Linked DNA regions of Homo sapiens. The protein of the gene in region 1 interacts with the protein of each later gene in a pairwise test. Each region holds a gene or a part of one and is shown on either strand. Other genes may lie near its edges.

The links.
Region 2: the proteins of BRWD1 (region 1) and SYT4 interact in a two-hybrid assay, tested with the Homo sapiens proteins (one large-scale study listed by BioGRID and IntAct).

Annotation. Positions count from the first base shown.
Region 1 is NC_000021.9:39,191,514-39,195,171, reverse strand, and holds part of BRWD1 (bromodomain and WD repeat-containing protein 1), read left to right. Parts: 3' UTR 1-3,658. UniProt on the Homo sapiens protein: May be a transcriptional activator. May be involved in chromatin remodeling. Plays a role in the regulation of cell morphology and cytoskeletal organization. Required in the control of cell shape.
Region 2 is NC_000018.10:43,267,410-43,271,067, reverse strand, and holds the end of SYT4 (synaptotagmin-4), read left to right. Parts: intron 1-419; coding exon 420-727; 3' UTR 728-3,176; downstream 3,177-3,658. UniProt on the Homo sapiens protein: Synaptotagmin family member which does not bind Ca(2+). Involved in neuronal dense core vesicles (DCVs) mobility through its interaction with KIF1A.

The DNA.
Region 1 (3,658 bases):
TTTGCTGGGGCAACTAAATGTATCTTTATTAGTGACTTCTAGTCCAAATATAAGAAACTGTCATGTTTTGTGGGAAAATAATTTTATAATCCATTTAAAGTGAAAGTTTATCACACAAATAGTACACTTATTTTCTAACCAAATACTTGATAGGTTATGCTACTCCAGTGTAGATGGCCATTCCTAACTTGTTTGTGCCTGAAGATGGACTTGATTCAAATGGTTTACATATTTAGTGGGTAAGGGATATGTTACAGTACCCCACCTGTAAGTTATTTATTAGCCCTAATTGTGTTTGATTTCAGACAAAATTAACCCTTTTCTCCTGTGTATCTTTGAAGTGGCAGATAAGGTGAAGCATCAGACTGGTATCAATATTAGACAATGTTATTTATTAGCCCTAATTGTGTTTGGTTTCAGACAAAACCTTTTCTCCTGTGTATCTTTGAAGTGGCAGACAAGGCGAAGCATCAGACTGGTATTAATGTTAGAGAATGTTCTGAAGTGTTCCTATTTTGTAGTTATCTATTCCATTTGACATAGTAGAAGGTACATTTTCTTTCTACTCTGATGCATGGGGAAGGATGTTTTTGGACATTATCAACTGAGATAGGTGGGAAACCTCCTCTCATTTGTGGCTTAGAGAGCTATCACCATTTCAGAACTATGATGCTTTTCTTCTCAGAACTTGTGTTAAGTAGATAGTAAACAGATTGATTCATGATAATTGTCCTTGACTAAGACTGAAAAGACTAATGGGATGCCTTTTACTTTGCTAATTTTAAAAACTGGTGATAGATGTCAAATCCATTAATTTATTTAAACTCTTCTTAACCTTCTCTTTTATAATCTGTTCTCAGGTTTTAACTCCATGTTTACCATCATTTGCAAAAAGGTACCAAAAAAATCCATAAATAAATATGGAATACATTCATAAGTACATACATTCTTTTGGTATAAAACAATATTTTGACAGTTTAGGCTTCATTAATAGAACTATTCTGATTATTTGGACTGCATTAATTGGTCATTGACTGGCCATCCAATTACCATTTTTTCTTTCAGTCCAAAATAGTTAGACCCTTGCATACAGAAGTGGTATTTTGGTTTTTAATCAGATTTGGTTTCATCAGAAGCAGCAAGAATGGACCTGATGTCTTTAAAAGCATAGCCGACAATGGTAGCTTCTCAAGTTATGAAATAAAACTGAGAGATAATGGAGAAAATAATTTTTATGGGTTTTTTTGGTTATGGTGCTATTCCTAAGGTTAACTTTGAATATGTGACACACACACTCCTAAGTACCTTTAAGGAAAATTAATAAATCATTAATAGTTAAAATGTTTACATTGAGCACTAGAACATGTTTGGCCTTTTTTTTCTACGTTATGCAAAATGCCCAGGGATTTAATGCACAGGTGTACTTTAATGTTTAGGGTCAGTTTGTAGTATTCTTGAGAAAAAGATAAAGGGTTATAATTTGAATGTGAACTGATCCAGAAATAAGTGCTGTACCTTTCCACTGCACTTGAAGTTCAACTTAATGGTGTATGTGAAAAACAAAAACTACTTTGGTTGTGTATGTCCAAAGTCCTATGGTTTTATTCATTTATGGTTTTACAGGCTTTGAAGTACTCAGATTTGATTTTTGCTTTCTTGGAAAGACTCACTTTACCAAGCATATAAAGGAAAAATGATTTCAAACATTGACAAGATAGATGAGTGTTAACAAAGCTTTCTTTTTTCGTGTCCTCCTTATTTAAAAAGGTATACTTACAATGTGAAGTAACTTATGAATAAAAGGAAAAGTTTATCCCATATTCAAATAATTCCTAAGGTCAGCCTCCCTTTTTGTAAGTGGCAAATATCTGATTAAATCATTTCTCAGTTTATTAATCCTTGGAAACAATGATATAGCAGTTACTCACAGCTTGTAAATTACAACAGAAAGGTTCCTTTCAAATAGTAGAGCTGCACCTAAAGAGGAAATTGGGTTTATAAGAAAATGGAGGCAAAGAACTTAAGTTTTAAGAAAAAGCACTTCAAAACAGAAGGGCAAATGGAAAAGGGGAATATAAAACAAACCAATAAAAATACCATCTGAGGGTGTTACTGTCCAAAAGTAAAGAATAAGATGCATCACTAAGCCCTTTGCACTCGTTATGACCTCGTAAGTAAAAATTATCACTTAGAATAAGGGGTGCACACTACATTCCCTCTGTCTTCTAGACTTTTTTTTTTGTAGAAGAATCAGAAAACAATTTACTAACCTCCCTGTTTGATATTAAAAATAGGAAGAATTTTAATATTTTCTGTTAGTACAAGTTGAACTTGATTGTGCCAACTGAAACCCCAGAGGTTTGTATATCAGTAGAATGCAAGAACATTGTTAAAGGTGCTTACGATCTTTTTTGTTTTCCTTTCCACTCCATTGTATCAATTTTTTGAGTAACTTTTAAATGGCTAGAAAATGGTCTTTTTGCTTTGCCCTTTTAAAGCTGAAATAACCAGCTCCATTCTTTTCATGAATAGTAAGTTGATATATTTATTTATCAGGTATCTTGCAGTTGTCACCAAATACTGTAGTTTTCTTATGTTGTATGGAAATTATAGTTCAATTATTTTAATGTGATAGAGTGCAACAAGTCATTGTAGAACTTTTCACCTGTTAATGTTGAAGTTATACCTCTGAATTTCTGCTGTGGATATCAAGGAAATAATAAAGCAGAAACCCCAAGAAATTTGCAACTTAACAGTTTGAGACTGTCTCTTATCCTAGTATTTGGGAAGAGAAGGAATAAATTTGTCAAAACTAGGTGAGAAAATAGAGCATTGTGGGAAAAACTGAGTCCAACTAGATTAGCAAATGTTAATTCCTAGCTCAAACTGTGAATAGTAAGGATTGAAAAGTAAAGTATGTAATGCTAAGGGCTGTGTTGTCTTTTCTTACGATTTTAAGTTTTAAAGGCTGTTAAATTACAGAGATGTTGCCCAAGGATACATGGGGATTCTCAAAAGTAAGAGATTTTTACCTTTTTCATAATCTGCCAAGCTGGTTCCTAATATATTGTTAAATTGGTAGAAAAATATCTTTAAATTGGTGTCTGCTCAAGAATTGCTTTTCTAGATTTGATGGAGGGAGGGGGAGAGTCACATCATTTGGATTCTACCAATCTGCAGGCTCTATCTTTGGCAACATGTAAATAATTAGACTATACATCTGTTTCTCAAGTATGGCAAGACCAATAGTTTGAATTTAATTATCAATGCTATGGTATACTTTCTGGTCATATTTTAGTTATGTCAGTTTTAAGGTAAGTTTTTTCATTTATTAAAGCCCTTAAATGAGATTTTAGACTGCCAAAGAGAAGAGGCAGTCCAATTGACCTAACTGAAATGAGATGACCAGTATATAGAGCCTAGATGGACTGTAGCAGCTCTACCCCTTTGTTTTACAAGGTAAATCATTTTAAAAATTACCTTTTTTGATCAGTGGGTAAAAGTTAAAGGGATCTTTAATTTTTGATATATTCAAGTTAATTTTCTAAATGTGAATCAGTCCTTGGACTGCAACTATATATTCACCTACAAAATCCCAATCAAAAAATTACATGAGCCTGTCAAGCAGATCTTTAGTTTTCCACTTCACATAAGATCG
Region 2 (3,658 bases), on another chromosome or scaffold:
CACAGCCAAAAGTCAGGGAAATAGACTCACCCAAAGTCATACAAGTCAGTAAAGCTACATGTTGTCTAATATATTTTTTTCCTTCTATCCTATTCTCTGGAGTAAGTTAATAGTAATCAGAATGGGTCCATAGAACATTCTATTTTCTTTCCTTTTGTGTTACTTCTTTTCCTATCATTAATTTTTTCCCTTATTCTCTAATTTAGAACTTTTTTCTCTTATTTTCCATATTCTTCCTTATTTTCAATTCTGTTGACAAGAGAAATGCCAAGTTTTATCCATATTTTTCTGTTGTTTTGACTTATTTTCCTGGTAACCACATGTCATTGGCATGCCATGATCTCTAAGGGCACTGTTATCTTGATATCAGCTCTCCAGCCCAGTTATGCCATTGTAATGCCTGTTATGTTCCACTGCAGATCCCTATGTCAAAGTGAACCTGTACCATGCCAAAAAGAGAATCTCCAAGAAGAAGACTCATGTGAAGAAATGCACCCCCAATGCAGTGTTCAATGAGCTGTTTGTCTTTGATATTCCTTGTGAGGGCCTTGAAGATATAAGTGTTGAATTTTTGGTTTTGGATTCTGAAAGGGGGTCCCGAAATGAGGTAATCGGGCAGTTAGTCTTGGGTGCAGCAGCAGAAGGAACTGGTGGAGAGCACTGGAAAGAGATCTGTGACTACCCCAGGAGACAAATTGCCAAGTGGCACGTGCTCTGTGATGGTTAGCATCCTAGCCGTGAGTTGGAACTTAAAGGTTTTTACTAGGCAAGGAGAAATTTTCTTTCTTTCTATATTGGATTGCAAGCTTGGGAAATCAAGCTACCTTTTTGTTGTTGTTGTTGTTGCTAGAAATGGATTGAATTAGTAGACCAGAAAGTAACTTCAAATGTGTATTATGATAATTTCCCTATTTATTAGAAGAGTTGGATAAATTTTCATAAGATATTCAATATCTCCTTCAGATTACCAGTGATATAACTAGGAATAGTCAGACATTTTATGAATACTGTGCCAGAATCCCAAATTATAAATGTGACAATCTCATTGGAACATGTCACAAAAAGTTAATGTGATTAAGATTTAAAAACGAAAAGTATGCCTTGCCTTGTGAAAATTTATCCATTTATCTTCAGGTTGGGGAAATCAATTTTTCTTTAAATCCAAAGATACTAAAAAAATGTCCTCCAGTTTGTATTTATTAATTCTGTCATGTGCAAATGGTTGTCCTGCATATAAAAGTATCTGGTCATTTCAGTTTGGTTTGTAATTATTTGATGCAATTTTATCATAAGAGTAACTCAGATTCATTTCAAAAGGACAGTGAACAAGCTGAGAAATTATTTTATCAAAGGGCTGAGTTGAGAACACTGTGGCTGAAATATAATTTTTCTCCCCCCTAAGGTTACATGTGAGTCAAAATTTTGTAAAATATAACCTCACATAAGAACCATGGCCTTGGATTATTCACTGCCTGTCACAAGCCTCAGTGTGGCCTGAGAAATCCCTATGTACCTTTGTGAAATTGTTGAATTAGTTAGTGAATAAAGAAATAAACTTCAACTAGAAATCCAGTTAGAAGTGCAATTTTCTTATAGGAAATAGGTATAGTGTGCAAGTGTACTTTTAAGGCCATCGTTTGTACCCAGAGTCGGCATGGCCACCTAAGTCTTCATTTAATTTATTGTCCCCCAGAAAAGATTAAGATGCTACTTGAAAAGACTGTGAAGATTTTTTACATTGCCAGATAAAAAGTGTTACTTAACCAACAAACAAATGTAAGACTACAAAATCGTTCAAGAGCAATTCTAATATAATTTACATATGTTCACGCAAAATATGCTTAGGCTGTCAAATTAGCACAACAAAGAATGTGTTTCACTATCTTTTCTAGGCTAATTTGTCTTGAGCTGTTGTCTATAGAGCAGTTTACAGACTTGTGTCTTGTATCATTTTCCAGTGCCAGGGTTCTGAAATTCATTCAGAACCTGTTAGATTAAAGCTGCACCCTGTGATTATTTGAAAAGAATTAGCTTGAGAGTAATGTCACTATATTTGAGTTCTTAGAGAAGTATGAGTGGAACTTGAGTACAGTTGAATTATTAAATATGCAAGTTAGAAATTAAGTCTACTGAAAAATTTACATTTTGAGTCAGGTTTTGTGTCAGTACTTTAGCAGTTTTTGAGAATGTGTTTGATATCACAGTGTTTGTAAATTCTATGAAAAATGCATTTTCCAAACAACTTATACATGCTTTTTATGACTATGCCTAATGTAAAGAAAATGTATTACATTCTGTATGTACAAAGATTAAAAATCAACCTCTTTTTTGTGCTTTAAAATGACTTTGGGATTAAAAAAGCATATTTCCCAATCATTGTCTTCATTCCACTACAAAGTCACCTCACAGCATCTTGCTCCACTCGGCATCTCTGTGAAAGCAACATGAAATGAACTGTAGTAGGTGTGTAGTTTGGGGAAGTCAAATGGCCATTTTATGTATGTGCATTTGGTATCATGGGCCGTGGAACAGAATATATGTTGGACCTCTGAAAAGTTGTAAGGGGCCAATTCTAAGTATTCTTCACGGCAGCCAGAAGTTAATGGTGGTAGCAGCTGAGGTATGGTTGTTGGACGAGGCCGATTTTTTTTTTTTTAACATGGAACAATGAAACCAACAACAAACATTTTTAAAATTAAAATGGATAATTTGTAAATAGTTTTTAGCTTTTAAAATTTAAAGTGTTTTTGAGTGTGAAAAGTTGAGTAAAACTATTTGCAACTGGTTTTCAGAAAAGAGAAAAGAAACAACAAAGGAATTGAAACAGGCAGGGAGATCTTAATACCTAATTTCATCATTTCTGAAAATGTACTGTTTTAGAATGTATTACAATATCAATGTGAATATCTTGAATCCTGTTACAAATCCTGCACTGTATTAAACATGTAAATTAATTGTTTGTCTGATTAGCCAATCTCACCACCCAAATGGGGAGGTATACATGTTTGAAGAACTGTGTAACTCAGTAATTGATTTGTTCTGATGTTGTAACTCAATAGAAGTGTTTTGGAAGGAAGCATGGTGTGTGAGACAGTGTCTGTTCTTTTGTGCCAGCTCTGTATGATGTTTGTAAGACCATGTTTGTAAGACATGAATAAATTGCTGCTTTTGCCCAACCCGTTTCAATGCAGACTTTCTGCCAATGGACTCTGTAATAAGGCTTCTCTTATTGCTGACTGAATTTTCAAGTTTCCCTAGTGGATCTCCTTGTATAGGTTAGGGACCATTAATTACTGAGCATCAGAATCTTTAATACACCTTTTAAAAAAATCTTCATAACAATCACCTGGAGCAGATATCATTAACCTTATTATACAGAAGCAAAACTTGAGGATCAAGGAGCATAGGCAATGGAATCAAGTAGGAAGGAATAGTACTCAAGAGGATTTCATGGCCTGCCCTGCCCTTCCCTCCATACCATTCCACTCTCCTCAAGGGGACCTCATCAACTGGCTTTGCTAGATGTTTAGGCTTATTCTCACATTCTTTGACTTTTTTCTAAATTTTATTCACTTTTCTATGTTTCATTTACTTTTCTCCCCAGTATTTTCAGCCACCATTCTTTATTTACTCTTCTATTTTTTTCCATTATCTCATT